Linked DNA regions of Homo sapiens: region 2 is linked to region 1. Evidence: fine-mapped expression QTL. Tissue or cell type: whole blood. Region 1 holds a variant in brackets; the other region holds the start of a gene. All regions are shown on one strand. Distances are from middle to middle.

Region 1 (5,530 bases):
AGCCACCGTACCCGGCTGAGCTGCCACTTTTCTTGATGAGTCCTTTGTCAACTACTTCGCCAAGCAAAATAATGGCAGATCATTAACTATAACATAGTCAAACACATTGCTCCCTTTAAATATTATTATATCAACAAATTATGGCTGGGCATGGTGGCTCACACCTGTAATTCCAGCACTTTGGGAGGCCGAGGCGGGCAGATAACTGGAGGCCAACAGTTCGAGACCAACCTGGGCAACATGGTGAAACCCTGTCTCTACTAAAAATACAAAAATTAGCCGGGTGTGGTGGTGCGCAGCAGTAATTCCAGCTGGTTAAGAGTCTGAGGCATGAGAATTGCTTGAACCCGGGAGGTGGAGGTTGCAGAGAGCTGAGATCACGCTACTGCACTCCCGCCTGGGCGACAGAGCGAGACTCTGTCTCAAAAAATAAAAACAACAAATTATTTGTAATTTTTAAGTTATAGCAAAGAAGTTTTTTTCTATTAAGATGTAAATTTTATGTATATTCTGTTTATTTCATCTATCAATCCTTTAAAAAGTCTATTTCTGTATATATTTTATGATATACATAAGTATCATAGTACATATAGATAACTTAAGAATAAATATACGGCCAGGCGTGGTGGCTCATGCCAGTAATCCCAGCACTTTGGGAGGCCGAGGCAGGCGGATCATGAGGTCAAGAGATCAAGACCATCCTGGCCAACATGGTGAAACCCCGTCTCTACTAAAAATACAAAAATTAGCTGGATGTGGTGGCGCGACCTGTAGTCCCAGCTACTTGGGAGGCTGAGGCAGGAGAATCGCTTGAACTCAGGGAGCGGAGGTTGCAGTGAGCTAAGATCACATCACTGCACTCCAGCTTGGCGACAGAGCAACACTCTGTCTCAAAAGAAAACAATATATATATATACATTCAGATTGTGAGCCTCCCACCTGTTTATTGATTCTTGCATGATCAAGAAAGCTTGGATACCACTGATATTTAGGGCATCAGATTTTTATATTTTCTATACGCTAAGACTGTTGTTTTTCTCAAAAGCAAGAGCAATCTATGTTTCTGCCTTCAGAGTTCACAGTTGCTGTTATTTTAAAAAGAGGAAGAACCAGTATTGCCCAACCTTCTTCTGGCCTTTTTCATATGGACTTTTTACTTGACATCTTTGTAGATATGCTCTTGTGTTTTTTAATTACAAATTTTAAAAAATTATTATTTATTTATGAGATGGAGTCTTGCTCTGTTGTCCAGGATGGAGTGCAGTGGCGCGATCTTGGCTCACTGCAACCTCTGCCTCTGAGGTTCAAACGATTCTCCTGCCTCAGCCTCCCGAGTAGCTGGGATTATAGGCACCCGCCACCACCCCTGGCTGATTTTTGTATTTTTAGTAGAGATGGGGTTTCACCATATTGGCCAGGCTGGTGGTGAACTCTTGACCTCAGGTGATCCGCTAGCCTCGGTCTCCCAAAGTGCTGGGATTACAAGCGTGAGCCAGTGAGCCATTGCGCTTGGTTGTATTTTTTAATATGATCAAAGATGTACAGATATAGGGAAAGAGAAGGAGAGAGAACATTGATTCTTTTACAGCAGTGGTTTTCAACTCCAGCTATACTTTACAATTATAGGGGCCTGTGTTCTACTCTCTGCCTATTGAATAAACAAAACAAAAACAAGTAAGGCAAAAAAACTCTGAGTGTAGGGCCAAGGAATCTAAGTTTTAAAAGGCTTCACTGGTGATTCTATAGAGCAGTGGGTTCCCAAACTTTGCTGCATATAAGAATCACCCAGGGGAGCCTTAAAAACACTGAGACCAAGGTCACACCACAGACCAATTGAATAGGTTGTGGGTGGGTGGGAGGTAAGTATCCCTAGTTTTTGAAGATCCCTGGGTGATTTCAATGTGCAGCAAGTTTGGGACCCACTGCTGTAGAGATCAGATTTTAAAAAGTCTGCCCTTATCCTTCTTGATTGAAAAGCTCAGGGCAGAGAGGATTTTAGAGTTTGAAGGAATTTGGAACATAGCTCTTTTTATATGGCTTTGAAATCCACAAAGGAAGTGAAATCATTCTTTTATGCTGAAAGGTACAAGTGTAAATGTATTTGATCTCTGAAAACTGAATGTATTCTGAAGAATGTACCCTACCTCTTGGAAACATAACCTGAAATAAGAAATATTTAATTTTAGTCACACTGGTATGTTTTCACAACCTATAAATATCAATTGAGTTTTTGATAATCTGATGTTTTTGAACAATCACCCAACCAAGATGAGCTGTATGTCTAACACATAAGCCCTTCACATGGCAGGTTCTCAATAGCTGCTTATCAAACGAATACAAGGCTCACAGGGTTAGAGGCTTAGAAAGAAGAATGTGAAATGTATGTATTCCAGCTTAGTGTTCATTTGTAATCTAGGTACAACACAACAGTTTTCTGTTCTCCCAATATGAATTGTAAGATCAACTTATAGTATTTCCACATTACAAGTTATATTTCAGGGGGAAAGTCTTCATTTATAAAAACTTTCAAGTTAAAGATGAATTTTCAAATGTTACTAGGAGAAACTATCCGCGTATCTAGCAGACATTTATAAAAAAATCCTTCAAGAGTTTAAGGTAGTGCTGTCCAGTAGAACTTTCCATGATGATGGAAATGTTTTATATGCACATTGTCCACAGGGTAACCAGTAGTTACATGTGGTTATTAAATCTTGTCCTTCTAACAGGTTGATGAAAGAAAATGAAGTGAAACAAAACCCTTGTCATATGTGTGACATATGTGTGACTGAATAACTAAATTTTTTTATTTTTAGATGGAGTCTTGCTCTGTTGCCCAGGCTGGAGTTCAGTGGAGCGATCTCGGCTCACTACAACCTCCGCCTCCTGGGTTCAAGTGATTCTCCCACCTCAGCCTCCCGAGTAGCTGGGATTATAAGCACTCACTGTCATGCCTGGCTAATTTTTGTATTTTGGTAGAGATGGGGGTTTCACTAAGTTGACCAGGCTGGTCTTGAACTCGTGACCTCAGGTGATCCACTCACTTTGGCCTCCCAAAGTGCTGGGATTACAGGCGTGAGCCACCACGCCTGGCCAGAACTAATTTTTTTTTTTTTCTTGAGACGGAGTCTCGCTCTGTCGCCAGGCTGGAGTGCAGTGTCGTGATCTCGGCTCACTGCAACCTCCACCTCCCAGGTTCAAGTGATTCTCTTGCCTCAGCTTCCTGAGTAGCTGGGACTACAGGCGCGTGCCACTATGCCTGGCTAATTTTTGTATTTTTAGTAGAGATGGGATTTCACCATGTTGGCCAGGATGGTCTCTATCTGTTGACCTCGTGATC[T/C]GCGTGCCTCAGCCTCCCAAAGTACTGGGATTACAGGTGTGAGCGACCGTGCCTGGCCAAAACTAAATTTTTAATTAAATTAGTTAAATTAAAAATATAACAGCCACGTGGAGCTAGTGGCTACCATACTGGACAACACAAGGTTGGGCTTAAGAAGGTACAAAACAGCTTTTTTTGATGTTCTGGATCTAGAAATTATTCTCTTGCTATTGTTTCTAACACACTACTATCTTGCCAATCAAGCAATGTAAACACATACTCTCGATGGCTTCATCATATCTAATTGTTGGCAAAAAATTAAAAATTATGAAAGCATTTTTTTTTTTTTTTGAGAAGGAATCTCACTCTGTTGCCCAGGCTGGAGTGCAGTGGCACGATCTCAACTCACTGCAGCCTCTGCCTCCCAGGTTCGAGCAATTCTCCTGACTCAGCCTCCTGAGAAGCTGGGATTATAGGCACCTGCTACCACACCCGGCTAATTTTTGTATTTTTAGTAGAGACAGGGTTTCACCACGTTGGCCAGGCTTGTCTAGAACTCCTAACCTCAGGCGATCCACCTGCCTCAAAAGTGCTGGGATTACAGGCGTGAGCCACTGTGCCTGCCACTTTTTTTTTTTTTTTTGAGACAGGGTTTCGCTCTGTCGCACAGGCTGGAGTGCAGAGGCGCGATCACGGCTACTGCAACCTCAACCTCCTGGGCTCTAGTGATCCTCTCACCTCAGCCTCCTGAGTAGCTGAGACTACAGGCATGTGCCACCACACCGGGTAATTTTTAAATTTTTTGTAGAAATGGGGTCTCCCTATGTTGCCCAGGCAGGTCTCTAACCCCTGGGTTCAAGTGATCCTTCCACCTAGGCCTCCCAAAGTGATCGGATTACAGGCATAAGTCACTGCACCTGGTCCTGAAAGTTCCTATTAGAGGGCTACATTATTCTAAAATACCACTGCTGATAAAAGAAAATACATATGCGTGGCTGGGCGTGGTGGCTCACACCTGTAATCCCAGCACTTTGGAGGCCAAGGCAGGCGGATCACTTGAGGCCAGGAGTTCGAGACCAACTTGGCCAACACAGTGAAACCCTGGCTCTACTAAAAATATAAACAATTAGCCGGGAATGGTGATGCGTGCATGTAATCCCAGCTACTCGGGAGGCTGAGGCATGAGAATCGCTTGAACCCGGGAAGCAGAGGTTGCAATGAGCTGAGATAGTGCCACTGCTCTCCAGCTTGGGGAACAGAGGGAGACTCTGTCCTCCCCACCCCCACCCCCCAAAAAGGAAAATACATACAGGCAAAAAAATTTAAAATTGCTCAGATCATTTGCTCAGCCAACATTTTGAAAGCAAATATACTTTGGAGATTTAAATGATAATGGAATTTGTGAAGGAAAAATCAATGAGATCCTGAATCTTGTATTCAGAATGTATCATCGAATTTCTAATAATAGCTCAATCAACTTTTTTTCCATATAAGTTGAAACAGAAAAGGACAAACTATAAAAATTATTTGTCATGAAATGTGTGAAATATAGAGGGTAAGATCACTCGACAAATACTTGAATATATTCTAATATGCCATTTAAAAAAAATTTTTCTTGTCAAATGCAAGTAACAGCAAATTGATTTAGCAAAGTTACATGTAAAAAATGCTCTTAATTTCTGTCTTAATTTGACAACTAAATATTCAAACCAAGGTCCCCATTTGATTTGCTTCGCAATGCTGCAAAATTGTATACTCTTCCTAAAAGGCATAAAGGAGAAGTAAAACAGTTACAAAACATGCTATCTTCAGGCTGGGCATGGTGGCTCATGCCTGTAATCCCAGCACTTTGGAGGCTGAGGCAGGCAGATCACTTGAGTTCACAAGTTCAAGACCAGCCTGGGCAACATGGCAAAACCCTGTCTCTACAAAAAATACAAAAATTAGCCAGGCTTTGTGGTACACACCTGTCGTCCCAACTACTTGGTAGGCTGAGGTGGGAGGATGGCTTGAACCCGGGAGGCAGAGGGAGGCTGCAGTGAGCCAAGATCATGCTACTGCACTCCAGCCTAGGCAACAGAACCAGACTTTGTGTCAAAAAACAAAACAACACACAAACAAAAACAAAAAACAAACCCAGAACCAACCAAACAAGAAAACCCCATGATATCCTTGGAATTAAGAAAAGAAGAAGAAGCCGGGTGTGGTGGCTCA
Region 2 (5,000 bases), 28 kb after region 1:
TTTTTATTTGCTGTGATAATAGTACTGTAGTTATGTTAAAAAGAGTCCTTATCTTTTAGAGGTAAATAATTGAAATATTTACATATGAAATGACATGGTATCTGGGATTTGCTTCAAAATACACAGTATGTATGAGCATAAGGCAAGACTGGCCATGAATTGATAACTTTAATCTGGGTGCTGGTTACATGGGGGCTCATTATATACTTCTCTTAATTGCCATATATGCTCCTTCTCTATAAAACTTATCATATTCTAAATAGCAAAAACAGTATGTTACTATTATTTCCACTTCACTTGCTCTCCAGTGGGTATGTAAAGAGGGAAAATAAAAAAGGAAATGGTTGTAACAAACGTAGCCACCTAAAGCCAGGAAGGACAGGGCCAGTACCATAAGATCCATACACTCAACACATGAATCAAGTAGGGATTGTTTTTAAAAGGGATGCTATAAGCTACTTTTTTAAAAATCAACTTTATTGAAGTATAATTTACGTGATAAATGTATACATTTGTCCATCTCAATCTTTATTGAGATGTATAACTTTTCTATCCACATCTCTGCTAACATTTGGTATTATCAGCCTTTTGGATTTTAGCTATTCTAGTGGGTGTATAGTGCCTCGTTGTAATTTTAATCTGCATTTTCCTGAGAATAATGTTTAACATTTGTGCTAAATTTTGATTATACATATACATATTTTTCAATTGTAACAATGTAATAATCTCTGGCAAATATCTTTATTATAACTTTTATTTCTGTATTTCTATATTATTTTATGAGGAATATTATACAATTTGAACACTACAAGCCACAGAAAATGATCAGTTTATGGAACTAAGTCCGACTTCCAGGTAAAACGTAACTATGGTATGGTATTTACAGTTTGTGTTGACTAAAATAAGCTCCCGGCTGCCAGATGGAGCTATAAGGTTGCCACCTCTACTGCCACCATCTGGTAACATTAAAAACAAATAAAAATATAGAAACTATACAATTCTGGGTTAGCCAAAGTCAAATTTCCAACACAACTCTTTCTCACGCACAGATCTTTGAAACTATAGAATGCATTCAAACTGATTTGTTCTTTAGTTTTCGTTACTTTTAAATAAACTATATTACAAAAGTGTCAAATAGCAAAATATTTTAATTTTCTCAAATTCAGGGAAGATGCTTTATGACGTACCTGCTTTTCGATTTGTTCCAAGACCTTTGGCAAATTACTTTAGAACTCCATAGGTATCTTGAGGATAACTGAACCTTTTCCTAACTTAAATCATAGACTGCCAGACGGAAAAAAAATGTCCTCGATGTTTTTAGTCTCTTACTGCACAATGTCAAGATATCAGCTGGGTTATACAATAGTTGCCCTCTGCATACTCACAAATGTTAACTCCAGTCCTTTTTTGTCTTCCCTCCCCGCCTAAGAAGCTACCAGGTCACATGCTGGCGGATACGCAGTGGCGGAAACCTAGCGGTGACAGGGAAGGACAGCCCTCTGCCTACTGATCTGCAGGTTTCTCCTCCAGTTTGCTCTTACACCGGGGTCCTCCGCTCGGACCTTAGCCCATTCATTTGATGATTCTCTCCCAGTTCGTTCTTCCACTGGGTCCCTTGCTCAGCACTACCCAAAATAACCACCAGCTCAGCGCCGGCTGCACCGCCGCTCCCCCGCCCCCGCCCCCGCCCCCGCCCCCGCCCGGTGGGGCTGCACCTGCCGAGGCCCCGGCTCGGCTCCGCGATCACGGTCGCGGCCCCCGGGGTTCCCGAGGGGCTTCTGCGCACCGAGGCAGGCGGGACTGAGCGGCACTCTGAACGGGCTCCCCTCTTAATGTCCCCTCGCGCCTGAGCAGCTCCGGTCCCGCCGGCGCAGGGTGCGGGTACCCGGGCCATGCCGGCCCAGAGACCGCCGCCCCCGGTACCGCTGCCCACTCGAAGCCCCTGGACGACCCCGCCGCTTACCGGCTTCGGCCCGTGGGGCGCCCGGTAGAAGAGGCGTGCGGTCCGTGCTCTCCTCGCCATCGTTCCGGGCCAGGTCTCGAACCGGAGACCTCATGACGCCTACGTGAGCAGGTGTACTCGCCACCTGGCAGAGAAGGGAGCGCCGGCCCGACAGCCCGAAGCCCCCGGGCCGAGCTGGCTGGACCGGGCGGGGCGGGGGCGATGACACCGCCCCGCGGCCACGTCTAGTCCCCGCGGTCCCGCCCAGAGGCGGCCGCGCCGACTCCGCCCCCGCCGCCATCTTAGGTGTGGGCAACTCTGGCTTGGGTTGGACTAGGGAAGCGGAGTTCTGGGAGTTCTCGTAGGATTGGCGCAAAGTGAGCCCGCTCCGCCCGCCGGTCTACGCATGCCGGGGAGCCGGTGTTCGGACGACCGTCTCCCGCTCCTGCACCCCCTTGTAAAGTGCAGGGGCCACCCTGCCCGCAGCGAGGATGAGTGGGGGCTTGCGGGCGGGCAGTGGGGACTTGAATTGCACATAATTAAGGGGAGGGCTTCGACCGAACTAGGGAAGTGGGTGGTGTGCATTTCACAACTTGACATTCGCTTGTTAGCGGTCAGTTGCCATACTGTTAGCAACCTTTGTACGATCTACCTCGTGACTGTGGCGGCATATTTACCTCGTGACTGTGGCGGCATATTGTCCCTAAAATAGCTTTTTTTTTTTTTTTTTTTTCTCCCAGGCAGGGTCTTGCTCTGTTGCCCAAGCTGGAATGCAGTGGCGCAATCGCAGCTCACTGCAACCTCCAACTCCTGGACTCAAGCGATTCTCTTCAGCTCCCCCAAGTAGCTGGGACTACAGGAGCATGCCACCACATCTGGCTAATTTTGTTTCTACTTTTTATTTTTGTAGAGGCTTGGTCTTATTATATTGCCCAAGCTGGTTTCGAACTCCTGGGCTCAAGCAATCCTCCTCGGCCTCCCAAAGTGCTGGGATTACAGGCGTGAGCCACTGCTCCTGGTCCTAAAATAGCTTTTAGGCGGAAAAACAGCAATGGAAATTTGTTGAGTCCTATGATGTTGCTGGTTTTATAGGTAAAAGTAATCAACATAGGTAGTTTCATATGGTTCGACCTATGGAATCCTCTGATGTATGTGTGCATGCTTTATCTCCACGATAGAATTTGGATAGATTGTGCTAGCATTTGCGGACTCTGAAAGTGAAACTAGGAAAACCCAGCTTGCCTTGGCAGGGCAGATCTGGATCCGCCAATAAAGGCTGTCTCTGTGGAGGTAGAAAATAAGATGTAGATGCTCTCGGAGAGTTTGGTGTAGACAGGGAAGACCCACAAGCCACTAATTCAGTAAACCAGGTTAGAAGCTTAGTGAGGTTCACGTGAGAACAAAGGGGAGGGTCCTTTACCTAGAAGGGAGGGCGAGGATTTCTGTAGGCATCCCTACCTCCAGATCAGTAAATGCTAGAAAAGTTCTCAAGTTAAAGCAGCAAATCAAGCCTTGTTTCTGAGTTACTGAATTACCATGTAGATTTTTACACTCTCTAAGGGTTGTAGAAAAATGCAATTTTCAAACTGGATTATGCAGAGTCACCTGGCAAATCCTTTTAAAATGTAGATTCAGATTCAGCAGATCTGGTGTGATGGTTAATTTTATGTGTTAACTTGCTGGTTGTCTTTGGATGAGGTTAACACTAAAATCATTGAACTCTGGGTAAAGATGGCTGCCTTCCATAATCTGGGTGGGCTTCCTTCAATCAGTTGAAGGCCTATCTAGAATAAAAAATCCGACTCCCCCACTTCTCTTGCCCAAGCAAGGGAGACTTCTCCAGCAGAGTGTCCTCAGACTTCATCTGCACCACAGGTCCTCCTGGGTCTCCAGGCATGTGCACCATCATCTGTTTTGGGTCGAGTTGGCCAGCCTATATTGTGAAAGCCAAAACTTTATTACCCAAACTACCCAATTGGGGCTGTTTCTCTGAGAAGCCCAGTACATCTGGGATGTGCCTGAGATTCTGTATTGCTAACAAGCTCCCAGATGACCAAGGTTATAGATAACTTGGGCCAGGGAATATAGTTGCAACAGACTTGAAAGACTTCAAACCAGAGGAATTCTTTTTTTTAATATTTTTTATTTTAGAAATTTTAGGTTTACATAAACGTTGCAAAGATAGTACAGTGAGTTCTCCATACCCTTTGCTTAGTTTGACCTATTATTAAGATCTTACATTAGTATCATGCATATATCATAACTAACGAGCCAGTATAGATAATTATTAACTGAAGTTCATACTTAATTTGCGTTTCTTTAATTTTTACCTAATATCCTTTTTCGGTCCCAGGATCTCATCCAGGATGCCACATTACATGTCTCCTTAGGCTCCTCTAGATCGACAGTTCCTGACTTTCATTGCTTTTGCTGACCTTGACAGTTTTGTAGAGTACTGGTAGGTTTTGTAGAAAGTGTCTTAATTTGGGTTGTCGAATTTTTTTTTGAGACGAGGTCACGCTCTGTCGTCCAGGCTAGAGTGCAGTGGCACGATCTCGGCTCACTGCAGCCTCCACCTCCCAGGTTCAAGCGATTCTCCTGCCTCAACGTCCCGAGTAGCTGGGACTATAGGTGCATGCCACCACGCCCGGCTAATTTTTTGTATTTTTAGTAGAGATGGGGTTTCACCATGTTAGCCAGGATGGTCTCCATCTCCTGACCTCCTGCCTCAGCCTCCACCTGCCTCAGCCTCCCAAAGTGCTGGGATTACAGGCATGAACCACCACCCCCGGCCTGAATGTTTTTCTTATAATTAGACTGGGGTTATGGATTTTTGAGGGAAAGGTCATAGAGGTAAAGGGCCATTCTCATCATGTAATGTCAAGGGAATGTGCTGTCAACTTATTTATCACTGATGTTTATCAGTAGTGATGGTAAGCCTCATTGCATGCCTGAGGTTGTGTTTGTCAGGTGTTTTCACTGTGAAGTTAACTCTTTTCCCCCGGCCTTACTTTTCTCTTTGGAAGGAAATCAGTATGTGCAGCCTTCACTTAAGGGG

The links. PIP is the estimated chance that this variant, and not a neighbour inherited with it, causes the effect.
Region 2: it holds the start of SLC17A5, and the variant in region 1 is fine-mapped to the expression of SLC17A5 in whole blood (TOPMed, PIP above 0.99).

Annotation. Positions count from the first base shown.
Region 1 is chr6:73,623,980-73,629,509 of GRCh38, forward strand. The region is part of intron 6 of SLC17A5 (solute carrier family 17 member 5); the gene reads right to left. Among named protein-coding and RNA genes, the nearest start is that of SLC17A5, 27 kb to the right of the region's middle. The variant T/C (reference allele first, on the strand shown) is at 3,338.
Region 2 is chr6:73,651,830-73,656,829 of GRCh38, forward strand. It overlaps SLC17A5 (solute carrier family 17 member 5), which reads right to left and starts at 2,163. Exons shown (of 11, transcript NM_012434.5): 1 at 1,964-2,163. The coding sequence starts at 2,057. RefSeq lists a silencer at 1,609-2,278 and an enhancer at 3,278-3,367.